Linked DNA regions of Homo sapiens. The protein of the gene in region 4 purifies or fractionates together with the protein of the main gene of each other region. This does not show direct contact. Each region holds a gene or a part of one and is shown on either strand. Other genes may lie near its edges.

Region 1 (5,117 bases), on a different chromosome or scaffold from region 4:
CGCCTGCCTTGGCCTCCCAAAGTGCTGGGATTACAGGCGTGAGCCACCGCGCCTGGCCTCTGACTCTTAATATATATCCAGGATTGAGAGCCAGTGGGAAAATGTCACTCCAGCAGGTTTTATCACTGCCAGCATGCTCCTGGGCCACTTACTAGCCTCTGAGCCTTCCTCTCCAGTGAAGTGAGAATAAAAGTGACTGTTGACTAGGCTTGGTGGCTCCCACCTGTAATCCCAGCACTTTGGGAGACCAAGATGGGAGGATCACTTGAGGCCAGGAGTTCAAGACCAGCCTGGGCAACATAGGGAGACCCTGTCTCTATAAAAACCATAAAAAATATTAGCTAGGTGTGGTGGTGCACACCTGTGGTCCCTGCTACTTTGGAGGCTGAGGTGGGAGGATCGCCTGTGCCTGGGAGGTCAAGGCTGCAGTGAGCCGTAAATGGAGCACACGAGTGCGCTCTAGCCTGGGCAAGAGTGAGGCCATCTCAAAAAAAAAAAAAAAAAAAAGAAAAGAAAAGAAAAGGAAAAAAAAATGACTGCTCTTCAAGTCAAAGGTATTAGAGACTGGAGGGTCTCTGGTGCACAGTAGGAACTGGGAGGAGGATAAAGATCAGTTTCAGGCCGGGCGCAGTGGCTGTAATCCCAGCACTTTGGGAGGCCAAGGCAGGCGGATTGCCTGAGCTCAGGAGTTCGAGACCAGCCTGGCCAACATGGTGAAACTTCGTCTCTACTAAAAATACAAAAATTAGCCGTACATGGTGGCAGGCAACTGTAGTCTCAGCTACTCGGGAGGCTGAGGCAGGAGAATTGCTTGAACCAGGGATGCAGAGGTTGCAGTGAGTCGAGATTGCGCCATTGTACTCTGGCCTGGGGGACAGAGCGAGACTCTGTCTCAAAAACAAAAACACAGCTCCGATTGCAGGCTGTGAAGGGCAGGGAATTGCACTCATTCTCCTCCAGCCCCTTCCCTTACCCAGGTCCAGGCAGCCTCCTTTGTCCCCAACCCCAGGGCTCTTGCTCCAGGCAGTCCTGAGGTTGGACGTAAGGTCGGTGATGCGGCCCTGCCCCCAGACCTTCCCACAGCTTCAGGTTCAGGAAAAGGCACATGAAGTTTGGTATAAACAAGGACACAACTTCACAGAGTTTCTCACTGATTTAAGTTAAATATTCTAGTCTTTAGAGAATGGGTCACATGACTCAGGAATTGCCAACAGCCTGTTTTCACCCAGCGGCTTCCTGGTTTACCCCCTTTAGGAGATGATTAATGGAAATTGAGAATGTGTCTCATAAATTACTTTTTTTTTTTTTAAAGCAGCACAGTTTTAGGAACTTTTCGAGACAGAACAGCTCAGCCAGCCTAGACTTCCACTTGTCCTCCCTCCTCCCACTCCTGCCAATTAACACCAGTCACCAGAGGCAAGAACCGCCTAGATCAGAAGCGACCCCAGGAACCAGGCTTCAGCACCCCTGATCTTCATCAATATTTTCTCAACTTGCCTAATCATAGGACTGAGCTATAATTCTTTAAAAAAAAAAAAAAAACAAAACCCCAACCACACACACACAAACAGAGACAGGGTCTCGCTATGTTGCTCAGGCTGGTCTGGAACTCCTGGCCTCAAGCCATCCTCCCATTCGGGCCTCCCAAAGTACTGGGATTACAGGCCTGAGCCACCGCATCCAGCCCTAGGCTGGAATTCTTAACCCCACTCCTGCTGCTTTTTGCAGGCCTCACTTCTGACTCACTGGGTCTAAGTTTCCGGGAGAGAGCCTCTGGACCCTGTGTTCTAGGCAAACGCCCCTAAGTAACAGCTCCCACTTCAGATGAGCTTAATCTGTGCCAGGTAGTGTTAAGTGCCCTCAATTAACTCATGTTATCCTCACAAGAACCTGCAAGTTAAGAAATTTGCCCAAGAGCACACAGTTATCAAAGGACGGAGCCGGAAGTCCAACCTGGCTATAACTGTAGAGACCACAAACTAGGAGGCAGTGGCTTCTCAGGCAGAAACACAAAGATTCTAAGCCGAGAACAAGAACTAGAGGACCTGGGTGGGGCTGTGTACTGCCCAGATGGTGCTAATGGCAGTTCAAAGGTGAGTGTTTCCTGTAAGTTGGGCCAGCGCCCAGCCTCTGCTCCCCCAGAACCTGGGAGGGCAGCACCCAAGATAACCTGAGCACCCCGTTACCTTGGAGCCCTGAGGCTGTCTCTGGGCCACCCACTCAAGGTGGCCCCCCTACCTGCTCAAGGCTACATACAGAGGGCTGTCCTGCCCAAACAGCCACACCCGAGGGCCGACCCAGTGCTCTGTGTGCCAAGGGAGTTTCTGGCAGAGCCACCTGATACCCCACGTGACAGCTGGCCTCTCCCCCATCACCCAGGGGCTACCCAGGCAGAGAGCTGAGAACACAGGGGCCATCAGCCTCGCTATCACCTCCACCCCCAAGTGCTTGGCTCCCCAAGGGACAGCTCTAAAATCCCCAGAATCTCAGGCTGGTGGGTCCAGCTGAGCATCCTAGTTTTCACTTTCTCCTCCCAAAAAGGAAAGAACCTTGGTCACTAAATTCTACGCCTTCTGGAAATCACTCTGCTAATGACTTCCTGAATGATCGACTGAGACCAACAGCTGGCCCAGCCCTGCATGGAGGAGTAAGAAACCCTCATCTGTCAGAGTTAAGGGGCCTGAATGGGTACAGGTCACATTCTTGGAGCTCAAGGTGACAGGCCAGAGCCCAGGTCCCCAGGACAGTGCAGGTGAGTAGAGCAAGCACCGATCTAGGGCTAAGATGGGGTCTGAATGACCCTGTAAGGTTCCCCACCTGATTTCCCAGGTGGGACCCTGAAGTCAGAGAGAGGCCTGAGAGTTGCAGGGGGGTGGGGGACCGGTGTTGGTGTTAATCTGCCTTTACTTCAAAACCCAGAAGACTCCCAACTATTGGAAAGTGAAACCTCCAAAAGCAAAGCCACCACCCATCCTCCTTCCCCACTCTGATTCAGACATGTTTTCCCTGCCCCAGCAGAAGCAAGGCCCTTCAAAGCAAGACAGGACTAAAGAGAGCCTCAAGGGATACAAAGATCTGCCCCTGATTTGGGGTTTGGGGGGCTAGTACAATGTACTCACATCTAGAAGTGCAGGTAGCTGCAACAAACGCCTCAGATGGGGAACTCTCACCCTGCCTTGGGGATCACTTCCCGGCAGGGCAAGGCAGGCCAAGCCCAGGGGTGGGGCTTGGGAGTTAAAGGGCCCGTGTGCAGCTGGTTCTCATTTTATCCTCCGGGCTGCTTCTGCTGCAGCTGAAGGCACACTGCTCCCTGAGTGCTCATGGGTTTCTACCTTGGAGCCAGCTGGCTGCACTGGAGTGGGACTGGGAGGAGTTGGAGGGCCCGAGATGGGACAGGTGCTAACTGAGGGCACCTCTACCCATCTGGCTTTCATTTTCCAATCTGGGTGAGTACAATTCTGCCTCTCCCTTCAAGTGGGGCCTAACTGTTGAGCTACAGCTACAGCCCCTCCTTTTAAGAGATGATAGCTCTGCATCTTTTATTTCAGACTCAGAAAATTCAGTCCAGGTCTCTGAATAGGTGTTCAATAGAAAACACACACTCACACACTCTCTCTATATAGATGTTCAATAGAAAACACACACACTCTCTCTATAGGTGTTCAATAGAAAACACACACACACACTCTACAGGTGTTCAATAGAAAAAACACACACACACACTCACACTCTCTCTTCCTCTTTCCCGCAACGTGCTGTTTGGGAGCTTGAGGTTTCTCTCTTCTTCCCAAGTTTCTCAATGTCTGGGCTGGGGAAGGAGGGCCCAGGCTCCAGCAGGTACGGACACTGCACCCTAGAGGCAGGAGCAGTGGGAATCAGTATTTCCGCTGCCGAGGGAAGAGACTACTCCCGGAGGATCGGAGTGGGGGGCTGGCGGGGCTGGGGTCCTCCGAGTCCAGGCTGAAGAGGTCCCTCCCGGTACGAAGGATCTGCTCCTCCAGCTTCTTGTGTCTCTTCATGTCCGACAGCACCTTGTCCAGGCGGGCCTCCCGTTTCTGGCTCCGGGCTGAGCTTCCTGGAGAAGAGGAAGGTAAGATACATGGAAGGGATGGAGGTGGTGTACACCATACCTGCCTGGACCTCACTCATCACTTGGGGAGCTGGTTAAACATGCAGGTCCCCAGGCCTCTGTCTTGGAGGACCTGAGGTTCAGGGTTGGACCTCAGAGAGGGTGAGAAGCAAAGATCTTGATTGACAGGAAGGCACAGGTAATGTGAAGAACAGGGAGGAACATACTGGGCAGGGGAATGGCAAGGGTAGAGGCCCCAGGACAAGAACAGAGTTCTGTTCAAAGAAGAGTGCAGGCCGGGCATGGTGGTTCACGCTTGTAATGCCAGCACTTTGGGAGGCTGAGGTGGGCAACTCACGAGGTCAGGAGTTTGAGACCAGCCTGGCCAACACAAAAAATTAGCTGGGCGTGGTGGTGGGCGCCTGTAATCCCAGCTACTTGGGAGGCTGAGGCAGAAGAATCGCTTGAACCCGGGAGGTGGAGGTTGCAATGAGCCAAGATCGCACTACTGCACTCCAGCCTCGGTGACACAGCTACACTCCGTCTCCCCTACTCGCCAAAAACAAAAACAAAAAAAAGAGTGCAGAGAACTGGAGGTGGCGGGAAAAGCGCTTGGATTCTCCTTTGACATGCTCTTCCCTGGCAAGATGGAATCCCTTGGAAAATTTTAAGTGGAAAAGTGACACGATTTATGGCTGAGTGCAGCAGCTCACGCCTGTAATTCCAGCACTTTGGGAAGCTGAGGCAGGCACTTTGGGAAGCTTTAGGTCAGGAGTTCAAGACCAGCCTCGCCAACATGGCGAAACCCCCTCTCTACTAGAAAATACAAAAATTAGCTAGGCGTGGTGACGTGTCCTTGTAATCCCAGCTACTCAGGAGACTGAGGTAGGAGAATCGCTTCAACCCAGGAGGTGGAGATTGCAGTGAGCCAAGATCATGCCACTGCACTCCAGCCTGAGCAAGAGAAAGACTTCGTCTCAAAGAAAAAAAAAGTGATATGATTTATGTTTTAAAAGGTTCATCTGAATTGCAGAAGCTGGAAGCAGAG
Region 2 (8,279 bases), on a different chromosome or scaffold from region 4:
CTGTCCCTTACTCTCAGCCACCAGCAACACCAAGGCCAAGGATTTCAGAGGGTTTTACTAGGTCCTCAATGACAAGACCAGTCCTCATGCCAAATCAGGATCCTTTCCTGCAAGCAGCACAAAACCGAGGACCAGCTTTACCTGGCCCGTTGGTAAGGCCACCTGATACATGTTCCCAGACACCTAGGCCCCCTGGACCTGGTCTTTCAGACACATTTAGCCGTGTTTCCCCATCTGCTGCCCGTGATCCCTATGATCAGTCTCCAATGACTCCAAGATCTCAGTCTGACTCTTTTGGAACAAGTCAAACTGCCCATGATGTTGCTGATCAGCCAAGGCCTGGATCAGAGGGGAGCTTCTGTGCATCTTCAAACTCTCCAATGCACTCCCAAGGCCAGCAGTTCTCTGGTGTCTCCCAACTTCCTGGACCTGTGCCAACTTCAGGAGTAACTGATACACAGAATACTGTAAATATGGCCCAAGCAGATACAGAGAAATTGAGACAGGTAAACACATTGTATGTTCTCAGTTTTAAATGTATTATTTGAGGAAGCTGTTCATTTCATCAAACTGAGTAATTTCTACACAGGAGTTAATGTTTTATTTTTTTTATTCTGTAGAGTTTGTCATACTGCAAAAAAGAAAAATGAAATTGATGAAATTAACACCAGTTTAATTTATTCTGTATCTGATTTCAGTTTTCACGAATTCGCAGGGGAATCCTTAAATATTAAAGCTTTGTTTTGTGATAGTTGTCTGGCAAGGAAAAGGACCCAAATCATCAAATTATTTTTCCTAATATATTGAATAGTTAAATGTAACTGGTATTTCATCAAACTTTGAAACATTACCATAGCCACATAATGAAAGTATCAGGATTTAAAAAGCCACTAACCTGTCAGGCACGGTGGCGCATGCTTGTAATCCCAGCTACTTGAGAGGCTGAGACAGGAGGATCACTTGAGTCCAGGAATTTGAGGCCAGCCTGGGCAACATAGCAAGATCCCATATCTAAAAATAAAAAGCCAGTAACCTTTAAAAAGCCATTAATTACCACAAATCCCAGTGATTTTTGTTTCTTCCCATTTAGCGGCAGAAGTTACGTGAAATCATTCTCCAGCAGCAACAGCAGAAGAAGATTGCAGGTCGACAGGAGAAGGGGTCACAGGACTCACCCGCAGTGCCTCATCCAGGGCCTCTTCAACACTGGCAACCAGAGAATGTTAACCAGGCTTTCACCAGACCCCCACCTCCCTATCCTGGGAACATTAGGTCTCCTGTTGCCCCTCCTTTAGGACCTAGATATGCTGTTTTCCCAAAAGATCAGCGTGGACCCTATCCTCCTGATGTTGCTAGTATGGGGATGAGACCTCATGGATTTAGGTAATGCTTTTAATTTCCTGCCGAATTTAAATTGCTATTAGAAGAGGGAAACAGAGCTGGGTGTGGTGGCTTGTGCCTGTAATCCTAGCTACTAGCTGAGGCAGGAGGATTGCTTGAGGCTAGGAGTTTGAGACCAGCCTGGGCAATATAGTGAGACCACCCCCCCCCCCCCCCAACCTCTTCAACAAATTTAAAAATTTTTTAAAAGAAATAGACAAATGAAGTTAGTATTAATCAGGAAGCTGTTACTGCTTTCTACTTCTTTCTCCCCTTTGAAATATATATAATCTGCTATTTAGTGCTAATGAGAGGTCATAGACATTTTTTTCCTCTAAGAACTCTACAGACTCTGAAAACATTACCTTTGTTTTTAAGTATTAACTGTGTTAGCATTACCTTGCACCCTTAATGATGCAGTTTATCATATGACATCCTCAAAATGTAGCTATTCTGCGTAGGCAAAGCCTCCTACGATGTGATGAGACTTGTCCTCTCTCCAAATTTCTACCTTTTAACTTTACATTCTAAATTAATTTTAGGCTGGGCGCAGTGGCTCAGGCCTGTAATCCCAATACTTTGGGAGGCCGAGGTGGGCGGATCACTTGAGGTCAGGAGTTCGAGACCAACCTGGCCAACATGGTAAAACCCTGCCTCTAGTAAAAATACAAAAATTGGCCGGCTATGGCGGCAGGCACTGCACCTGTATTCGCGGCTACTCAGGAGGCTGAGACAAAAGGATCACTTGAACCCAGGAGGTGGAGGTTGCAGTGAGCCGAGGTCACGCCACTGCACTCCAGCCTGGGAGACAGAACGAGACTCTGTCTCAATTTAAAAAATAATAATAATAAATTTTAGAGATTTCCGAACTGAAAGGACTTTCCCTTTAGGAACTTTCCATGGTGAGATAGGGTTGTAAGTTAGTGGTGATGAATCATAAGAATGTTTCCTTTTTCAAAGTGGCTAAAGTCAAAGCCAAACCTATGCCCTAGTTATAATAAGGAAATAGTTCTTTAAGATATGCTTTTTAGTTTTATGTCTTTTAGTCTTATATCTCTACCTCCATGTTATATTCTTTTAGTTTCCTTTTCTTCTACCTTAGTTGTAATTTATGCCTCTTTCTGCATTTTATATTTTGTGTAAGTTGCCTGTAATCTTACTCTTAATTTCCCTTTTTTCTTCCACCTTGTTATAATTTATGCCTCTTGCTATGCTTTGTATTCTGTGTAAGTTGCCTGTAATCCTGTCTAGAAGGAAGTACAATATAAAATAGTCCAACAATTTATACATTTACTTAATCTTTATAGATGAGGCCTACTTGTCCTTTTCTCTAAGTTTATTCTATCCCATCATCAAACCTGTGCCTTTGTAGTCTCATGTACTGAGGCCTGTAAGTCCCTCAATAGGTATGAAGACCTATCTTCATTCAAACATCATCCCCGAATCAGCTTCCTCCATCGAACCTCCCTAAATATAGATAAAAGAAACTCTTCCTGAAAAAGTCCAGTAGTATTGTTCTTATCTCTGAACAATTGATTTCATCTGCTTGGTTGTTCTTCCTTTGTCTTCATTTTTGTTATCTGTTAAATCTTAAGCCTTTAGAGCTCAGATATGGTGTTCATTATAGGATTCTTAGCAAAATCTTACTTGCATATGAATACTGTAAATACTTTTTAATGGTGATAGCTTTGCTTTTGTAAGTCATAGTATTTGGCAACATTTTGTATGTACAGTTTAATTGAAGACTTTTCTTTTTTTCAACTTAACTCTAAATTTAACATAATACCTATTTGCTTTTTTTTTTTTTTTTTTTTTTTTTTTAAAAGATTTGGATTTCCAGGAGGTAGTCATGGTACCATGCCGAGTCAAGAGCGCTTCCTTGTGCCTCCTCAGCAAATACAGGGATCTGGAGTTTCTCCACAGCTAAGAAGATCAGTATCTGTAGATATGCCTAGGCCTTTAAATAACTCACAAATGAATAATCCAGTTGGACTTCCTCAGCATTTTTCACCACAGAGCTTGCCAGTTCAGCAGCACAACATACTGGGCCAAGCATATATTGAACTGAGACATAGGGCTCCTGACGGAAGGCAACGGCTGCCTTTCAGTGCTCCACCTGGCAGCGTTGTAGAGGCATCTTCTAATCTGAGACATGGAAACTTCATTCCCCGGCCAGACTTTCCGGGCCCTAGACACACAGACCCCATGCGACGACCTCCCCAGGGTCTACCTAATCAGCTACCTGTGCACCCAGATTTGGAACAAGTGCCACCATCTCAACAAGAGCAAGGTCATTCTGTCCATTCATCTTCTATGGTCATGAGGACTCTGAACCATCCACTAGGTGGTGAATTTTCAGAAGCTCCTTTGTCAACATCTGTACCGTCTGAAACAACGTCTGATAATTTACAGATAACCACCCAGCCTTCTGATGGTCTAGAGGAAAAACTTGATTCTGATGACCCTTCTGTGAAGGAACTGGATGTTAAAGACCTTGAGGGGGTTGAAGTCAAAGACTTAGATGATGAAGATCTTGAAAACTTAAATTTAGATACAGAGGATGGCAAGGTAGTTGAATTGGATACTTTAGATAATTTGGAAACTAATGATCCCAACCTGGATGACCTCTTAAGGTCAGGAGAGTTTGATATCATTGCATATACAGATCCAGAACTTGACATGGGAGATAAGAAAAGCATGTTTAATGAGGAACTAGACCTTCCAATTGATGATAAGTTAGATAATCAGTGTGTATCTGTTGAACCAAAAAAAAAGGAACAAGAAAACAAAACTCTGGTTCTCTCTGATAAACATTCACCACAGAAAAAATCCACTGTTACCAATGAGGTAAAAACGGAAGTACTGTCTCCAAATTCTAAGGTGGAATCCAAATGTGAAACTGAAAAAAATGATGAGAATAAAGATAATGTTGACACTCCTTGCTCACAGGCTTCTGCTCACTCAGACCTAAATGATGGAGAAAAGACTTCTTTGCATCCTTGTGATCCAGATCTATTTGAGAAAAGAACCAATCGAGAAACTGCTGGCCCCAGTGCAAATGTCATTCAGGCATCCACTCAACTACCTGCTCAAGATGTAATAAACTCTTGTGGCATAACTGGATCAACTCCAGTTCTCTCAAGTTTACTTGCTAATGAGAAATCTGATAATTCAGACATTAGGCCATCGGGGTCTCCACCACCACCAACTCTGCCGGCCTCCCCATCCAATCATGTGTCAAGTTTGCCTCCTTTCATAGCACCGCCTGGCCGTGTTTTGGATAATGCCATGAATTCTAATGTGACAGTAGTCTCTAGGGTAAACCATGTTTTTTCTCAGGGTGTGCAGGTAAACCCAGGGCTCATTCCAGGTCAATCAACAGTTAACCACAGTCTGGGGACAGGAAAACCTGCAACTCAAACTGGGCCTCAAACAAGTCAGTCTGGTACCAGTAGCATGTCTGGACCCCAACAGCTAATGATTCCTCAAACATTAGCACAGCAGAATAGAGAGAGGCCCCTTCTTCTAGAAGAACAGCCTCTACTTCTACAGGATCTTTTGGATCAAGAAAGGCAAGAACAGCAGCAGCAAAGACAGATGCAAGCCATGATTCGTCAGCGATCAGAACCGTTCTTCCCTAATATTGGTAGGAGTTTTCTTGAGTCTCAACGTATATTACTATGGGTATTAGAGTGGCATGCGATATGCTTATAAGATTTTATTATTAGAATTACAGTTGGAATAAAGCACTGAGTTTTTCTATTCCTCCTTGAGGAGTTTGTTTGTTTTGTTTTGAGACGGAGTCTCACTGTGTCACCCAAGATGGAGTGCAGTGGCGCGATCTCGGCTCACAGCAACCTCCACCTCCTGGGTTCAAGTGATTCTCCTGCCTCAGCCTCCCGAGTAGCTGGGACTACAGACACGTGCCACCATGCCTGGCCAATTTTTGTATTTTTAGTAGAGGTGCGGGGTTTCACCATGTTGGCCAGGCTGGTCTCAAACTCCTGACCTCAGGTGATCCGCCTGCTTTGGCCTCCCAAAGTGCTGGGATTACAGGCGTGAGCCACCCTGCTTGGCCCTCCTTGAGCTTTAGAATGAAAGCAGTTGGCTGGGCACAGTGGCTCACGGCTGTAATCCTAGCACTTTGGGAGACCGAGGCAGACAGATTGCCTCAGCTCAGGAGTTCCAGACCAACCTGGGCAACACAGGACATGGATGAAGCTGGAAACCATCATTCTCAGCAAACTAATGCAGGAACAGAAAACCATACACTGCATGTTCTCACTCATAAGTGGGAGTTGAACAGTGAGAACACATGGACACAGGGAGGGGAACATCACACACTGGAACCTGTCGGGGGTGGGGGGCTAGGGGACGGATAGCATTAGGAGAAATACCTAATGTAGATGACGGGTTGATGGGTGCAGCAAACCACCATGACATATGTATACCTATGTAACCAGCATATTCTGCACAAGTATCCCAGAATTTAAAGTATAATAATTAAAAAAAAATAACAAAAAATTAGCTGGGCATAGCAGCGTGCGCCTGTAGTCCCAGTTATTCGGGAGACAGAGGCAGGAGAATGGTGTGAACCCAGGAGGCGGAAGTTGCAGTGAGGCGAGATCGCACCATTGCACTCCAGCCTGGGGGACAGAGTGAGACTCTGTCTCAAAAAAAAAAAAATGAAAACAACGAAGAGTTTTAGATTCTTTCCAGGTAAATTAAGAGATTCAAAACTGAGTTACAAACTTCCCTCAATTCTATTATTTATGGAATTGTTTAATAGAAACTAATTGTCTTCTTAGTTCCTACATTCCAACCATTGTTGCCATATGTTTTCAGTCATGGAAGGATGAATTTAAGAAAATTATGATGGAAATAAAGCTTCTTACTGTCCTTTTGTGTATGACAAATGCTTGGCGATTTTTTGCTATATAAACCTCTTTAACTTGTTTCTAATGGTTTACTGATTCTAAAAACAACAAAAGCAATGCAGTCAAAATGCCTCAGTGCCTCTAAGAATAAGAATTAGCAATCAAAGGGCACGTGTCTAAGCAGTGTGCCTTATTCTAAATAATAAAATTGACATTCCATTTTATATATCCCCAATTTCATCATTTTGCTCCCTTTTTTTCATTTAGATGCAAATAGGTTTTTTCGTAGTAGCTTCTTATTGAGAGGTTATACCCTTAAGAAATTGGTGCATTTTTCTTTTAAGAGTGATAACTAATTTAGTAGAATTCCTTAGTATTGCAAATTCTTATTTGTGATGTTATATTTACTAAAGAAGCCATTCTGATTAGCATTGCAAAAGTTTGGATGAAAGGAAATTAATTGCATTGCTTTAGATTATTGCTTATAATCTCCCTTAAACTTGACTTTTTGTTTTAATTCCTGCAGGACTAAGGTATTAAAGCATGATTCAGTTAAGGACTACTGAGATGCGATTAAACCCAGGATAAGGTTGCCATCTCAGAAATCTGTAATGATTATTAAATAATAAAATTTAAGAGCTTGTAATATTTGAATTACTTCTTAGTGTACGTTGAACTAATTACTATGAAATAAGTAACTTTATATTTCTTTTCTAGATTTTGATGCAATTACAGATCCTATAATGAAAGCCAAAATGGTGGCCCTTAAAGGTATAAATAAAGTGATGGCACAAAACAATCTGGGCATGCCACCAATGGTGATGAGCAGGTAGGTGGAGTGGCTGCTTGTTTCTACTGGGCATCTAGACATTCATGAAATCATTACTAGTTTTTAGAAAAAACATACAGAAAATGGAAAGCCCTTGTCTAGGAATGAACAACACTATTTAAGTTGTCATGGCATCAGCTCGATATGATCAGATACAAAATGCTATACCAATTTAAGAAATTAGTGTAAGAACCAGTTTAAGAGCATTAGTCTCAAGGATGGTAAATGTAAAACATCTTAAAAAGATTTGGAAGATTGGATTTCCTGATTACTCAAGTCAAAGTATTTAGGTCTGTGCTCTTTTAAATACCTTTAGAATTGTTCATGTTATCTAAGATTTTTTTCAGTTAAGACACTGAGTGATTAAAGCAATTATAAATTCAGTTCTAAAATAAAATGTTCCCAAACCGGTTTTGAATCAGAAAAAGAAAGTTACAAGGAATAGATAAGAGGACAGTTGGAAGTTGGAGTTACAGAGTTTGTCTTTTCTCTCTTAGGAGAAAAACAGAAATTACGCATTAAAGAAGACAGTAGGGGTTATTTCAATATCTGAATTTTTGAAATTATGCCCTCTAAGGGTTGTTAACCACATGGCACTGTTTCTTAAATTTTGATCATGGACCACCATGAGAATTATGGGGTAATTTTTTTAAAATGCAGATTATTTTGCTCTACTGCAGACCTACTAAATAAGAATATCTGGAGATGGTTGCCTGTGTGTCTGTATTTTTAGCAAGCGTCATGAATGAGTCTTACGTGTATTACTATATGAGAACCTCTGTCAATAAAGTAAGCATAGAGCCTCAATTTAGTCTAGTTATCTTGTTGAAAAACTTTTATATAAAAAATGTGGATGATTATAGAATTGAATATAAAATTTGCACGAATTTAAGATGTATATATTTCAAAGAAATTTGAATTCTTAAGGGTATAATTCTTTTCAATTGTTGAGATACTTTGGACATGGTTAAGAAGCATTTTTGAGATCAAAGTAGAGATAGTGGTTTCCAATGATTTTCATTATTGAGCAATATTTATTAACACTATTTCTCTATCATAGAGATTCCTAACTGTTTTATGTCTTGAATATTTTTGGATTCCAGTGAAGCCTTTGAAATTCTCAGAATGTTTTATATGCAGAAAATTTAAGACATAGCATTACGAAGGAAATGATTATACTTGAAATATAGTTA
Region 3 (8,279 bases), on a different chromosome or scaffold from region 4:
AAGCTCTAGGAACACTTTTAAAAACATTAAGCCAGCTGGGCGCAGTGGCTCACGCCTATAATCCCAGAACTTTGGGAGGCCAAGGTAGGAGGATCACCTGAGGTCAGGAGACTAGCCTGACCAACATGGAGAAACCCCGTCTCTACTAAAAATACAAAATTAGCCAGACATGGTGGTGCATGACTGTAATCCCAGCTACTTGGGAGGCTGAGGCAGAAGAATCGCTTGAACCCTGGAGGTGGAGGTTGCGGTGAGCTGAGATTGCACCATTGCACTCCAGCCTGGGCAACAAGAGCGAAACCCTGTCTCAAAACAAAAACAAAAACAAAACAAAACAACAAAAAACCCACAACAATTAAGCCACAGAGTACAATGCAATCTGCACTAGATTAGGGTATGTGCTTAGCAGCTACCAACTAAAAAAACAGATTTTCTCCAAAGTTTAAAAAGACCCTGTGATCCCAGAATGGAACCACTGTTTTCTCCCTTCTTTGAGAGGTAGAGTTCATTACAGTGCCTACCAAAGAAAATGCTCAAAAAGTATAACTGTGAGGTACCATTACCTGGCAGTTAGGAGACCGGAGATCCCAGAGTCGAATGGTCTTATCAAGAGACCCAGAAATGAAAGTGTCATCCACAGGTGACATGGACAAGGCCACCACCCTGCAATACATCGAGATAAATAGGAGTTGATGCGAAATATTAGCAAAAATTGGATGTGAATTCTAAACCACTCTGCCTATCTATACATATATATACCTGTTCTCCCAAAATTGCCATTTTAAGAAACACAATAAAACACACATACCACAACCATATCTGGAACAAACAAAGGCAACTAGTATAAAAAAAAAAATTTAAAGCTACAAAATAAAAATATATGATTCCAATGCAAATCAAAACCACAATGAAATACTACTCCACACCCTCTAGCATAGCTATAATAAGAGAGATAACAAGTGTTGGTGAGGATGCAGAGAAATTGGAACCCTCATACATTGCTAATGGAAATGTAAAAATGGTACAGTTGCTTTGGAAAAGTTTTTCCAAAAAAAGTTACCACGTGACCCAGAAACTCCACTCCTAGGTATTTACCCAAGATAACTGAAAATATATGTCCACACAAAAATGTACACATATGTTCAGATCTGCACTATTCATAACAGCCAAAAAGTAGAAATAACCCAAATGGTCCATTAACTAATGGATGGACAAACAAAATGTGCTGTATCTATACACTGGAACATTATTTGGCAATAAAAAGTAATAAAGTACTGCCTCATGTGACAACATGGAGGAACCTTGGGAACACCATGCTAAGTAAAAGAAGCCAGGCACAAAAGATCAGATATGAACTGATCCATTTACACAAAATGTCTAGAATAGGCAAATCTATAAAGACAGAAGTAGATCAGCAGTTGGTAGGGGCTGAGGGAGTGATTACTAATGGGTACAGAGTTTCTCTTTGGAGTGATAAAAATGTTCTGAAGTTAGATGATGGTGATAGTTGTCCAACTTTGCAAATATAGTAAAAACCACTGAACTGTACATTTTTAAAGGAATCATTTACAGTATGTAGACTGTATCTCAATTAAAAAAACACAAAAAAGCATGATTCCTTATCAAGATGTGTGAGGACTACACAGATATTCTCAAACCTAAGTGGCATCAGCATCACCTGGAGGGTGGGTTAAAACAGACTGCTAGGATCTGCTCCCAGAGCCTCTAATCCAGTAGGCCTGACTTGGGGTCTGTGAATCTGAGTTTCTAACTAGCCCCCAGGTGATGGGTGAGGCTGCTGTTTTGGGCACCACACCTAGAGAACCACAAGCCTATGCTAACAGCAACTGTATTCCTTTTTTGGTTCCCTTTTGTGGTTATACCATCAAGAGACACTCACTGAAAAACATTTTCTTCCAATGTAACTCAACTAACATCTGCACCAGCTCCTCAAGTTAAAATTTTAAAAGGTATTGTTAAAAGCCAAAATTTCCTGAGAATGCTGAGGAGGTAATAAAACACAATGAGCAGGCCAGGTGCGGTGGCTCATGCCTGTAATCCCAGCACTTTGGGAGGCCCAGGTGGGCGATCACCTGAGGTCAGGAGTTTGAGACCAGCTTGGCCAACATGGTGAAATCCCACCACTAATAAAAATACAAAAATTAGCCAGGCCTGGTGGCGTACACCTGTAATCCCAGCTACTCAAGAGGCTGAGGCGGAAGAATCGCTTGAACCCCAGAGATGGAGGCTGCAGTGAGCCAAGATCACACCACTGCATTCCAGCCTGGGAAACAGAGCAAGGCACCGTCTCAAAAAACAAAAATCAGAATGAGCAGAACACGTTGTGGACATGTAATTTTATGCCATGGCATTCAGCCCAAGAGCTCAGCACAAGACTCTATGCTGAGAAGTACAGGGAACACATGGAGAAGTAAGACCCCGACCGTAAGGAATTTTAACTGTCCAGTCCACATGACTCCAAGAGGACCAGAGAAGGCTTCTGGAAAGATACAACATCTGAGGTAGAAAGGATTTCAAAGAAGTAGCCCAGAGTTCACCTTAATGGGAATGGTGGGAGAAAATGCTGAGAAAATGGGTCAGAGCCAGAAGGGACAGAACCTGACTACAAGGGGAAGGAGCAATGAAAATATAGAGAACCATTAAGAGAGATTGTGAAGCAATCAAACTGCAATCCAGGAAGCTGAAACAGGATGGTAAGAGATGGGAAGATTAATTAGGAGCTAACAATAATTTACCTCACAGGGCATGAGCCAGGGCAGAAGCAAAGGAGAGAACACAGAGGAAAGTGACACATGAGGTTAAACCTAGGGAGAACTAAATAGTTTAACAACTCACTGAATATGATGGCAGGGGAAAAAGAGTGAACTAACAACAGATGCTTTGAGCCAGAATTGGAAGAGACAGAGATGAATAAATATGAGGAAGACAGAGAGAAGCTGGCCCAAAAAAGGTAACAATGATGGACAGAGTACTGGACCTGAGTATTAGAAAGAGTATTGGACAGAAGAGACAGCTACAAAGATGTGTATAAAACATGTAGGTGGTGCTGGGTGCAGTGGCTCATGCCTGTAATCCCAGCACTTTGGGAGGCTGAGGCGGATGGATCACCTGAGGTCAGGAGTTTGACAGCGGCCTGGCCAACATGGTGAAACCCTGTCTCTATAAAAACACAAAAATTAGCCGGGCATGATGGTGCGTGCCTGTAATCCCAGCTATTCGGGAGGCTGAGGCAGGAGAATCGTTTGAACTCAGGAGGTGGAGGTTGCAGTGAGCCAAGATCATGCCATTGCACTCCAGCCTGGGTGACCCGGTGAGCCTCCATCTCAAAAAACAAAAAAACAAACAAAACCTGTAGGTGGAAGGCGGGTCTGAAACTGATAATAGACATGAGCTAAAAATACTGATTTGGGAAGCCACCTGAATGGAGGTAAATGAAATCAGCGATGGAGATAAGAAAGCGGATAAAATATTTGTTTATTTTAGAGTCAAAACAGAGGCTGAAAACTACAAGAACAGAACCGACATGGGAAAAGTCACCTGCCACGGGAAAGTAAGTTTTACTGAGAGGTTAAGCACCAAGAAAAGCCCAAACCAGTGGCTTTTTAACTAGAGGCAGCAGGGAATGAAGGATAAAGGTTTGGATAAAGCCCCATAGACGATTCTGGGACTAGTGCAAAAATGATTTCAACAGTGAACATGTGTGAGGAGGTGGAGATGGGAATGTACAGATTCTTCTTTCAAGTTTGATAGTGAAAAGGAGTGGGTGATAGGGTCAATAAGTAGATTTAAGATAAGAAAGACCAAGTAAATTTGTAGGCAACAAAGGAAAGGCCAATTAAGGAGATGGAAGCAAGCAGAAAGAGGAAGGTCTGTTTTGTGAAAGAAAGACAACAGCTTTCTCAAGGAAAGGATTCCAAGGAAGACAGAATTTAGGTGGAAGGGATAGATGTTTAAAAGAACTCTTTTTTTTGGAGACACGGTCTTGCTTTGTCACCCAGGCTGGAGTACAGTGGCACAATCATGGCTCACTGCAGCCTCAACCTCCCAGACTCAAGCGATCCTCTCACCTCAGCCTCCCAAAGTGCTGATAACAGGCCTTAACCACCACACCCAGCTGAAATAACTCATTTTGTATAGCCTTGATTTTCTCATAAAAGGAGGGACAAAGTCATCTATCAAGAATCAGGAGGTCGGCCAGCCGGGTGCGGTGGCTCACGTCTGTAATCCCAGCACTTTGGGAGGCTGAGGCGGGCGGATCAGGGACCATCCTGGGTAACACGGTAAAACCCCATCTCTACTAAAAATACAAAAAACTAGCGGGGCTTGGTGGCGGGTGCCTGTGGTCCCAGCTACTCAGGAGGCTGAGGCAGGAGAATGGCGTGAACCCAAGAGGCGGAGCCTGCAGTGAGCCAACATTGCACCACTGCACTCCAGCCTGGGCGACAGAGCGAGACTCTGTCTCAAAAAAAAAAAAAAAAAAAAAAAAAAAAAAAAAAAAGAATCAGGAGGTCAAGAGGTTGAATAATTGGGAAGACTGGAAAGCACGTCAAACAACTGCATCAACTCTTAATTACAAATAGTACATTTGTGAACATTAATTTGAATAAAAACAAGCAAAACATCTACTTATCATGAGCCATCCTTTGTCTGAAACCAGTTACCACTGGTTGCCACCTTATTTCACCTTTATTTCAGCAACACAAATGGCCTGCCCAACTGGAAGTGCAACTTTTTTTTTTTTTTTTTTTTTTTGAGACAGGGTCTTGCTCTGTCACCCAGGCTGGATGGAGTGCAGTGGCGCCACCTTGGCTCAATGCAGCCTCTGTCTCGCGGGTTCAAGCAATTCTCGTGCCTGAGCCTCCGAAGTAGTAGGAATTACAGGCGCACACCACCACTCCTGGCTAATTTTTGTATTTTTTGTAGAGACAGGGTTTCACCATGTTGCCTAGCCTGGTTTTGAACTCCTGCACTCAAGCAATCTGTCCTCCTCAGCCTTCCAAAGAGCTGGGATTACAGGCATTAAGCCACCACGCCTGGCCTGGAAGTGCAATTTCTAACAGGAGGCTCTCAGGCCATCTCCTGTCAGGGCTCCATACCAATCGAAACCATCCTGGGTTACTGTACATTTGCAAATGGATGCAGGAAAAAATACCCCAAGTGATTAAAATATTATCCAGGGGAAAACGTGTTTAACATTCAAAGAAAAGTTGAAAAATTAGAGAAAAAAGTAACTAGGGGCATTGGGGTGAAGAACAGAGAGAAGCAACCTGCATTACAATACAGAAAAAGGAGATAAACTTCTTGATTTTAAAAAAAGGACTTTCTTTTGCATTCTCATTAAGATCTTTAAATGGAACATTTTTACATAGGGGCCCACTGAAATGGGGGCCACATATATTGGAAGGCCTCATAAACACAAACAGTCCTTTATTAAGGGATATGTGAGATTTGGTATTCCTAAATGCCAAATCTAATTTTTACTACATAAGTTTTCACTGAATATCTTTAATCCACATTTTTTCTAGTTTTATATGTATATATAAAACTAGAAATATATATATCTAACTAGAAATAGATATACCTATAACTAGAAAAAATATATATACATATATATCTTTGAGACGGAGTCTCACTCTGTCGCCCAAGCTGGAGTGCAGTGGCGCGATCTCGGCTCATTGCAACCTCTGCCTCCTGGGTTCAAGCGATTCTCCTGCCTCAGCCTCCCGAGTAGCTGGGATTGCAGGTGTCCACCACCATACCTGGCTAATTTTTGTATTTTTAGTAGAGATGGGGTTTTGACACGTTGGCCTGGCTGGTTTCAAACTCCCGGCCTCAAGTGATCCGCCCGCCGCGGCCTCCCAAAGTGCTGGGATTACAGGTGTGAGCCACTGCACTGGGCCTAGTTATATTTTAACTGAGGTATCTCTGAACACCTACCTCTGCACCTCTATAACCTCAGTAAATCAAGAGTTGACTATTTAAGAGAAGATGAAGAATGCCAAGCAGTAGTGAGGAAGTAGCTTCAGTTCACTAATAAGCTCTCTCTAGCCTTCTATTCTCTGGGTAACCTCAGGGATAAAAGAACTATCTGCTTCTATAATACGTGGGTCTTACCTTTTGCTATGTCCAGGAAAGTATCTGATGTATTTGTTGTCATGCAAGGACAAGTAACGAATAGTATCTGTAAAAAGACAAACAAGGTATGATGATATCATACTATTTAAAAGAAATTTACTTTACATTTTCATCTTAAAAAGACAAGGTCAAATAATCCATTGTATTCTATATCCCAAGCAAGGCATGAATAAATAATGGTGAATAATTCTACTCTGCAGCTGAAGAGTGGGTATGTAGATTTCACCTAACTCAAAAGCAGAGTTCTTAAGTTGACAGCATAGAAAGCAATGTTTGAAATGACCTTTTATTACCAATTTGGTTTCTTCATAATTACAATGCAACTCCCACCCTGCAAATATACCCTGGTCAAAAAACAAAAACAAGTAAAGCACACATAATAATTTTAGATACTGGTCTAGTGTCCACAGAATGGCAAACCTTAAAGAAAAATATGTGGCTGTTGAGCTAACAGACTTAAAGAGGTGAGCAGCCATGGCAGTTAAACTGAAGATCAGGTTGAACCCTGGCAGCAATTTTTGTCTAGAGTTCTCCATCAGTATGTTGACCCACCCTCAACTCATTTGAACATTCTTCAATTGGACACACAAATTACAATGAAAATAAACAAAACGTCAGAGAAGTGATGTCAAGATCTGGGTTAAAAAGATCTTAAGACATTAAAAAAATCAAATTCTTATACCAATGAGTAATAGCAGTGAGATTTTGACAATATTAAAGAAAGGAACAATCAGAGATTTGTGCTTGTGGAAAAATAAGACACTCTTAACCAAATGATTCTATCTGAAAGAGTAAACAAACAAAAAACATGGTGGCGGTAGAGAAATGAAGTGCCATAAAGAATAAAACTGCAAAATAGAAAAGTATTATCCCCTTAAAAAGACTAGGAATAAGGAAAAATTGTTGAGAAACAGCTAAGGGAAAATGGTACCAAAATGCAGAAAGAAAACCATAGAAAGAACATTCTGAAGGCAAACAGAACATAGGAATAAAGGGGTTGAAAGCATCGAGTCATCCCAGGGGTTCACAGGGGTGCTTTCTAATAAGAGGGCATTTAACTTGGGAGGGGGAATAGGGGAATAGGGATATTTGTATATTCCATAACTTGAACACTACACAATTTTCCTTGAAAACATCTTCAAACTTCTTGAATGACAACTACGAAGTATTTCTAGTTATTCTACTGCTAACAATGACTCACCTGCCCTAAGAAGAAAAAGACTTCCTCCCCATTACCTGGTTTCCCAGAGATGAGCAGGGTGACGCCATCCTCTCAGCCCCACTTGGCAGCTGGCGCGCTGTTCCTGGCAAGGCAGTGGCCTGTACAGTTATCTCCTGTACCGGGTGGTATCATAGACCCTCAAACTGTACAAACTACTACCTCAGCCTGGAATCAGGCAAAAGGAAACGGAGCGCTGGAGGAACTCTTCAGGATGCACTTGAGACAGGAAAGGGAACATCCTCACAGCAGAGGCTTGGCAGCAAAGCTACAAGTGCCACACATTTGCCTCATCTTGCACCACATTTGGAGAATCCTCATTTAATCACTCAGAAAAACATCCCAACAGAAGAAATAAACCAGTCATTCGGATGATCACATAGACATGTTTCCTCAGGATCCTAAGGTTTTACATTCTTTTCCAAAATCATTAACTACACTGCTTCCTTAGAAAACCACTTCTGAAATACAGGCATGAAAAGTAGAAATGACATACTTAACTAAAAATCAATACAGGCAGAAGAGTCTCATTAAAAAAAAAAAAAAATGGAAAAAAGGACTTCCGCCCATTCTGCTCTGAGATAGGCACAGCCAAAATAGCAGTATAAGCTATCCTTGTGGAATGACATTAGAAAAATCTTTTTTGTTTTTTTGAGATGGAGCCTCGCTCTGTCACCCAGGTTGGAGTGCAGTGGTGTGATCACCCTAGACCTCCAGGGCTCAAGCAATCCTCCCACCTCAGCCTTACAAGTGGCTGGGACTACAGGCGCGTCCCATCACACCTGGCTAATTTTTGTATTTTTTGTAGAGACGGGGTTTTCCCAAGTTGCCCAGGCTAATCTCGAACTTCTGTGCTCAAGTGATCCACTCTCCTAGGCCTCCCTAAGTGCTGGGATTACAGGCA
Region 4 (8,279 bases):
CACAGGTCAATCTCTTCTATTCTTCTCTGCTAGTTCTTCAATTTCCTAGCCTAATACACTGGAATGCCCTAAGGCTCAATCTTGAGTTCTTTTCTCAATCTGTTCTCACTGATTGGTGATACCATCCAGTTTCATCCATCCTTCTAGTTGGTCAGGCCAGCTGGGACTCCTTTCTCACACATCACTCTATATCAACTAATCCTGTTGGCTGTACCTTCCAAATATACCCAGAAGCTGACCACCATCTACTACTACCACTCTGGGAGCCATCATCAACTTTTAACCTGGATTACAGGTATAATCTCTAAAATGGTCATACCATTTCTACTTTTGCCTCTTTCAGTCTATCCACAGAGTACCAAAGAGGACCTAGTCAAAAACAAAGTTAGATCACATCACTCCTCTGTTCAAAATCCCCCTACGGTTTCCTGGATACTCAGAATAAAATCCAGTATCCTTATAAGGCTGATCATGATTTAGCCATCCTGTTTCCAGCTGGAGCACATTTCTCTCTCTTCTCACTCCTTGCCTGTCCTGTTCTGCCATGCTTGCCACCTTGATTCTCCTCAAATGTGCACAGCACAATCCTACCTTAGGGTCCATTGCTCCGTGCTGCTCCCTAGACCTGGAACAATCTTATCACAAATAGCTTCAAGGCTCACTCCTGTAACTCTCATCCAAATGCTATCTTTCAGAGAAGCCTTCCCTGCCCTTCTGATTTATAACTGCAACTCTCCTACCACCAATCTCTAGTATTCTGCTGTTCCCTTTCTATTAGTGCTTTTTTCCATAGCACTAATCACAACCATCATCTAATGTTATATATGTATTGCTTATTTGTTTACTATCTATTTACCTACACCAAGTAGAGACATCTCAGTATATTTTCTTTATTGATGTATTCCCAGAGCCTTGAGTAGGAAATGAACCTAGTAGGTACTCAGTATTTCTCTAAGAATGAATAAAGTACTAATCACTTTAGATCAGGGTCCCACCAAGGATATTAATTCAAGAATAAACTTAAAAATCTTAGAAAAAGAACTTATTTCAGTTTTATCAATAATATAAGACTAACCGACAATCAGCCAAATATTTCTCTTTTTAAGTCAAATATTTCTCATAGTAAATTAATAAAAGTACAAGCAATTTGGCTATACATATTGAGAGCATTTTCTTAAAACTTACTCTTTGGCCCTTCAGTTTCACCTCAGCGAGTACCCATATCATGGAAACAATCCAAAATATGGGAAATACTATGCACATAAACATTCAGAAGTAAAAACTTAGAAATTAAATGTCTAACGAATGTGCTAACGTTGAATACATTATGACCCATTTCCTTGACAAAAATAATGTGCATGCAATTCATTACTCTGTTTCAAAAACTTTAGTGGATCAACTTTGCCTTCAAGATAAATTTGGCCTCTCCCTCAGCCTCTTATTTCACCCTCCCCTCTTCATAACCTATCTTCTAGGCACACTTCACCAGCCCTCTCCTCCCCTAAACTCTAGCTTCTGGAAGACTCTGACATCTTGGTTATGTGCTCTCGTAGGTACTCTGATAGAACTTTCCCACCAAAGTCACACTTCACAGTCATTATGGTAAATACTTATTCACTGGTCTTTTTCTCCCACTAAAGCAAATACCTAACACCTAGTTTAGTGCCTGATCTTAAGTAGGCAGTTTATGCAGAAATGAACTAAGTAATATTACATAAATGTGCTTATGATGCCACTGTAAATTAATGGTGCATTTTGGGTGATTTATATGATCTATTTTCTTCCTTTGTAAATTTGCTAAGTTATCTATGTCGGTAGAGACTGTACAAAGGGAACAAAGATATACTCATGTATGTACATAATGAATCACAATGTAGTAACATTGTAGTGCCACAAAATTCTTATAAAACCAGTTCCCCAAACACTTCTCTCTTCTTCTCTCAAAGTGTATAAAACCCAGTAAAAACATTTATGTGAAAAGCCAACAAGGAAGCTAGTCCTCCTATTACCTGAGTGGAGTTAGATAGTTGGTTTTTCCACGGCTCCTCTGCGCTGCTGGTCAGGTTTGTGCGGTTATGAGGTAGAGTGAGTGCGTTTCGCTGCAGGTAAGGCACGTTTCCATTACTTCCACTTCCTGTTATATGATTATTGCCTATCAAAATAGTGTCTGTACTTCCCAGCGTTCTTGATGTGCTACAGGGAACATGGCCTGCAGAAAAGGGTCCATTGGCCAAAGGCTGCCCAGGGCAGGCAGGACGGACTCCAGGCTGAGAGACGCTAGGCACTCTGGTCAGAGCAAGCTGTGGCTGCTGGCCAGAGACTGAGTTTGTAGGCAGTGATGAGTCAGCTGTTGGCCCATTAGGAATTCCAGTAGATCGTACCTGTGCAACTCCTGTTGGTCTCATCTGTCAAAAAAACAAAGGAAAAGTAAATGCTGGTTGTGTAATCTATAGGGAAGAGAATCTATAGGGGATTCTCTATGAATCCCCAGATGAATATGAAGATGTATAATTAGGGAATGTGTGATTTTACCCAAATGCTTAATTTCTCTAAGTTGAGAAATACATACTTTAAAAACAAGAAATTGTATTTGTTCATTTTAAAATAAACTTCCTTGAAAAAGCAAAAGTCGGTTTCAAAAAAAAAAAATCCCATTAGTAATGACAAAAGGAAGCAGCTGAAAATTATAGAAAACGACCCCGAACTTATAGGTCCTTCTCTCAATCACAAAAGAGGGGACATCTCAAAATTTCATTCTGTTACATATATGCCAGATCCTGTAAACTAAATAAGCCCTAAAAACCTTGCCTCAGTACTAAATAATGTAAACAAACCCTTAGAATACATGTGAAATATCATGTAAATAAATAAAATACAAAGTATCTTCTTCAAAATTATAGTTGCTTTTGTCTAAAAATCTCCGTCAATTACCAGTATTTTAAAATACAGAGATTACTAAATTCTGTCAAATACCAGTAGAAAGTAAAAATGAACATAAACATGCTCTAAAATGACATTAGAGTCAATAAAAATACTCAAAATGCTAACAAATTTCAGGGAAAAATATGCTATACACACTTGGTGTTGTTGCATTAAGACAAACTGACTTTCCAGCTGTTCCAGCATCAGTTTCTGTGCTGGATTTAAATTATTTCTATTTGCGCGGAGCTGTTCCAAATGCTAGAAGAAGAACAAAAAGAGAATATAGTCAAAGATATATTTAGGAAATAAGATCATTATTCTAAGCAACCTTTCCCTGAAATGACTAAACTCAGAACCACTATCTGGTCAAACACACTGTCTTCTGACCAACAGTCACACACTCCAAGATGAAGTCCTTTAATAAGCTTGAGAAATATAAGAATGAACTAAGCATTCATCTGAACAAGATTTACTATGAGTTCTTTGTAATAGATGGGCATGAAATTTTACTCATCCATACAGTATTCTTAGGTATTCACAGAGAAAACTCTTGAAGCTTAAAAATATATTGACAAGTATGCTAAAAGCAGCACTGTCTGGAATAAGCAAAGTCTGAAGACAACCTGAATGTCCAAAATTACTGATCTGCTTAAATAAAGGTGTTACATCTATATAAAGAAATATGATGTAACCATAAAAGAACAAGGAAGCTCTTCACATATTGACATGCAGAAGTCTGTAAAATATGTTGTTAACAGCAAATAAGAATCCTATCATTTGTGTAAAAAAGAAGAAAAATAATAATACATGTGAGAAAGGGGGGGATGTATATTTGCTTGTACATACATAACATACCTCTGGAATGATAGATAGGAAATTAGTAATACCAGCCACATTTTGAGTGGGTAGGGGCCAGAGTTAGAAGAAAACTTTACCCTATATACCCTATATTTATACTTTATGTAGTGTAAACCATGTCCTGTTTAAAAAAAAAAAAAGAAATTAAAAACAAGAATGAATGCTCTTCATTATTCTGGTAAATGCAGGCTCATTTTACTTTTGTGCATTTTAATTGAATGTACTGCCATTTAACTTATAAGAATTAATACTTAGGGCTGGGTGCAGTGGCTCACACCTGTAATCTCAGCACTTTGGGAGGCTGAGGTAGGTGGATCACTTGAGGTCAGGAGTGCAAGACCAGTCTGGCCAACATGGCGAAACCCAGTCTCTACCAAAAATATAAAAATTAGCGGGGTGTGATGGTGCGTGCCTGTAATCCCAGCTACTCTGGAGGCTGAGGCACAAGAATAACTTTAACACAGGACGCGGAGGTTGCAGTGAGCCAAGAGCGTGCCACTATACTCCAGCCTGGGTGACAGAGCAAGACTCTATCTCAAAAAAAAAAAAAAAAAAAAAAAAAATTAATACTTGTTTGCTACCTCTACTCCTTTTTAATAAACAATTTGTCAAAAACATCTTACATACCTGTAATTTCTGTGGTGTCAAACACCATGAATGAGCTTGTTGCTGTACTGGAGGATGTGACACAGCATGTCCACCACTCCAATTGTCAGAAGTATTCTGAGGAAAATCGATTTAAAAAAAAAATTAAAGAATATTTGGTTAAATCCACAGTTAATAATAATGGTTAGAGGAGGCCAAATGACTATGAATTGGAATATTTACATGTTAAAAAGATGTTATAACATTAAATTCTTTAAAAAATAATTTTACATGCATATTAAACTTAGAAATCATACATTTAAAAATTACTGACTATTTAATAAGCCACCCAAAAAGGCCCACCCTCAAACTATGGCCCAAACGGCTAGCCTAAACACCACACTGTCCACTAGATCCAACATTAAATTTATTTCAATGTCAGTAAAAAGTGATGATGAAAAGTGTGCTGGGATCTTAACGGCAGGGAGATGAATAAAATGATTTGATGAATGCAAATTTATCCCTACTTTCTATATTTAATATGATACTAAGGGTTTGGGATGGAAAAACTCAAACCTTTCACTCTTTGATGTCCACAAATTTAAAATAAAGGACAGGAAATGTTCAAACTGCACAATTTCAGGGCAGCTGAAACTTCTTTTTTGACTGGGATTTTCTATTTCTCTAAAACATATACCTTTGTTGGACTAGATGTTCTTTTCCTCTTGGCAGGACTGGACAGGTCATCTACTTGGCTAGAAGGAATCATGTGTAGTGGCAAGGATTGCTGTGAAATTGGTGTTTGACTGAGGCCTAATACAGGTTCAGTATTTGGATGATGAGGTTTACATGCCTAAGAATCACAGAAGGAAGACAAAAATAGGGTTCTATATATTCTTAATTCATTCCTTCAAATTATAAAACTTTACAAGCTGCATACTTTTCAAAGCTATGTGGACATCGCTGATTGCAATGATTGAAAATCAAAATTAAATGATTCATCAATGGAATAATGTGTACCTTCCTTTGAAAAACTTGCCTTAAAAATTAAACAAACCACTGTAGCATTATTTTAAGAAATCTCCTTCAAAATCATGAAAATGCACAAAGGTTCTAAGTTGGTACCCCAAAATCTCTTCCCATATTAGAGGGAATTTTATTTTGATCTAGATTCCCTTTGCAATTAAATCAAAAGGCTTTTCATTACTAAAAGCCTCCTGTGCTTAGTAAATTAAGCTTGACCACTAGAGAATTGAAAAGAACCCTTAAAGCTGGGCACCTGCAGAACATAACCCAACTTCTCACCTGCTGTGCTGTGTTCATGGCACCCTGCCTGGAGGTAAGCTCTGCGGGAATTGGTAGGCTCCACGCCTCCTCAATACTAGGAAGTAATTTAGTTTTATTCTGTAGACTACCTTGTGGAAGGTTACACAACTGAGCCTAGGAAAAATTATGTAAAAAGCAAATTTAACACAAGCCTACTTGAGTAAGAGCAAGTCCACTAAATCTTCCTAAATGCTATAGCTAATTGTTTTTAAAAGAAAATAGATTCTAAATTTGGGGCTTTAGAAGACACTAAGTATAAACAGGGTAACCGGAATATAAACCTTTGTGAGAATCAAAACAAAGCTGAGCTCTGTTTTCAGAGTTCTCATAGCTGTCTTCTCAAGAAACTCCAAGCAAGAGTGAAAGACTGTTTGTGTTTTCTATAAAATGCTATGACAACTTAAAAATGTAGACAGTACATAGAAAAAAATTATGTAAATTAATATGCATCAACAGAGTAAATGTGCAAAAGAGCATCTTTAAAAATACTGCATATCTTACTTAAAATGAAAAGTAAAATAATATTACAAGCTATGGTATGTTTACAAAATATGGAAACAGATTATAGACATCAAAACACAACTAGACAAACTTTCCAGCCACCCTCCTTCTGCCTGAGTGTTCTGGGGAAATATGTGGCTTTAAAAAACTGCCATTTAAAAATTTTACCTGTAAATACTTAATTCGTGCTGCAAGTGCAGAGGTATTACTACAACTTTTGCTTCTAGTTGCATTTAAGTAGCATTTAATGGCATCCTGAGGCTGGTTGCAGGATTCATAGAGAGTGCCTAGGTCCATCCAGGCTGCAGCATGGCCATGGTCCAATTGTACAGCACAAATATAGGCCTGTAAAGCATCCATGGGCTGATTTTGCTGCTGATATAGCACACTGGAAAGAGAAATTAAGAAAAAATAAGTCAACTCAGAAGAACTGCTTGGTTTTATAATGATTTAAACTATGAAGTACTATATGTGATGCAACCATCTTTGTATATCAATTAAATTACTACTATTTTTATACAAAGGCTTACCCTATTGAACACCATGTATCTGCACTTGCTTCTGATTTATCAATAGACTGCCTGTAAGATATAAAGGCATCCTGAACTTTCCCAATACTTGAATAGCACCTGAGAAGGGAAGGGAAAAAAAAAAAAAATCAAGAGAATTCCATTAATACTGAAACAAATTAATCGGCTGAAAGGATGGACTATATATCACAGCAAATTTTTTTAAAACCCTAATAAGTTAATATATTTATGTGTATGTATGTATATACTTGTTAACTATAATGAATATTATAATTTGCCCTCCAACAAACCATATTATAGTCTGTCTTATAGGTGCTAAAAAGCATGCTGCATTAATGAACTCTATTAAAATGATTAGGGGACATATCACTTCAATATTATAATACTGAGAGCTGCATGCACATGTGCACACACACACACACGGCACTCTTCCACTCTTCTTATACAGCTTGACCTCTAGTTTCCTATATGGTCAAAATACAGAGTTAAAAACAAAAACACTATATACGTTGGTAAGATTTGCTGTATCAGATTTCAATTTTCCTTTCCCAAGTAACAACACTGAGGGCAATAATTCTTTAATTCATAAAAAAAATGCACATGTAAGACATAGTTAATCTCAAACTAAGTATCAAAAATAGTATAAAGTAAAAAGTAAAAATAATATAAAGTATAATATTTTATGACTAGTAAAGTTAGCAAGGTAAGATTAACGATTCAAGGACTGTAATTTTCTTAATGTGAATATACACGATGGACATGATGGATACACAGATAACAGTTGAAATTATAAATACTGAAATTATCTTCTTATTCTTGGCACTAAAGGAAAAAGAAAAAAAACAAAAACCCAGTCCCTATTTTCATGAAGCTTACAATTTAGTTGAGGACTGAAGATACATTAAAAATGTCATGATGTCATATCAAATGGCCAGTATAGACAATAATTGGCCTGAGAATTTAGGATAAGAAGAGACCATCATATTCTGCAAGATTTAGGAAAGGCAAAAAAAAAAAGGGGGGGGGGGGAGAGTAAGAGTAAGGGATTTGAATATGTAAAGATGCATATTATTTAGTGATTCCTAATTGCCAGCCAGTATATGGCACGTTTGCCAAGCAAACAAATTGGAAAGACAACACACACATATACATACATAAAGTTTTTCCAATAAATGAATTAATATTTATGCTGTAATTCTCTTATTTTGGATATTATTGGCTGACAGTAAATTGCAAAAAAAGTTAATGTTTTTACTTGCCCAAACACCATATTTCTATCCTCATAATTATTCTTTGAAATTTTACTGATTTATGTAACCTAAAATTCTAGGAACCACTGATTCGGGCAGAGAAGATGAGAAAAGGCGTTTTAAATGGGTTTGAACAGCATGAGCAAAACCTAATGTATATACAAGAAAGCACAGACACAAAACAGTAGAGAATTTTAAATCCAGCCAAAGATTACCCTAAAGTTTGCTTTTCTAACAAGCAGAATAGCACACTGAAAGCACTTTATAGGAATATTAATTTTCTAACAATATGTAGGGCAGACTGAAA

Evidence for each region.
Region 1: the proteins of KDM6A (region 4) and PAGR1 purify together in Homo sapiens (affinity purification with mass spectrometry; 5 studies listed by BioGRID and IntAct, with this or other methods). This does not show direct contact.
Region 2: the proteins of KDM6A (region 4) and KMT2C purify together in Homo sapiens (affinity purification with mass spectrometry; 3 studies listed by BioGRID and IntAct, with this or other methods). This does not show direct contact.
Region 3: the proteins of KDM6A (region 4) and WDR82 purify together in Homo sapiens (affinity purification with mass spectrometry; 2 studies listed by BioGRID). This does not show direct contact.

Annotation. Positions count from the first base shown.
Region 1 is NC_000016.10:29,818,513-29,823,629, reverse strand, and holds the end of PAGR1 (PAXIP1-associated glutamate-rich protein 1), read right to left. Parts: intron 4,091-5,117; exon of another isoform or gene 4,076-4,090; coding exon 3,876-4,075; 3' UTR 1,141-3,875; downstream 1-1,140. UniProt on the Homo sapiens protein: Its association with the histone methyltransferase MLL2/MLL3 complex is suggesting a role in epigenetic transcriptional activation. However, in association with PAXIP1/PTIP is proposed to function at least in part independently of the MLL2/MLL3 complex.
Region 2 is NC_000007.14:152,172,938-152,181,216, reverse strand, and holds part of KMT2C (histone-lysine N-methyltransferase 2C), read left to right. Parts: coding exon 1-506; intron 507-1,090; coding exon 1,091-1,383; intron 1,384-3,206; coding exon 3,207-5,026; intron 5,027-6,974; coding exon 6,975-7,086; intron 7,087-8,279. UniProt on the Homo sapiens protein: Histone methyltransferase that catalyzes methyl group transfer from S-adenosyl-L-methionine to the epsilon-amino group of 'Lys-4' of histone H3 (H3K4).
Region 3 is NC_000003.12:52,260,817-52,269,095, forward strand, and holds part of WDR82 (WD repeat-containing protein 82), read right to left. Parts: intron 7,546-8,279; exon of another isoform or gene 7,462-7,545; intron 6,203-7,461; coding exon 6,136-6,202; intron 664-6,135; coding exon 564-663; intron 1-563. UniProt on the Homo sapiens protein: Regulatory component of the SET1/COMPASS complex implicated in the tethering of this complex to transcriptional start sites of active genes.
Region 4 is NC_000023.11:45,057,548-45,065,826, reverse strand, and holds part of KDM6A (lysine-specific demethylase 6A), read right to left. Parts: intron 6,822-8,279; coding exon 6,723-6,821; intron 6,581-6,722; coding exon 6,361-6,580; intron 5,806-6,360; coding exon 5,671-5,805; intron 5,219-5,670; coding exon 5,063-5,218; intron 4,504-5,062; coding exon 4,408-4,503; intron 3,181-4,407; coding exon 3,079-3,180; intron 2,406-3,078; coding exon 2,010-2,405; intron 1-2,009. UniProt on the Homo sapiens protein: Histone demethylase that specifically demethylates 'Lys-27' of histone H3, thereby playing a central role in histone code. Demethylates trimethylated and dimethylated but not monomethylated H3 'Lys-27'.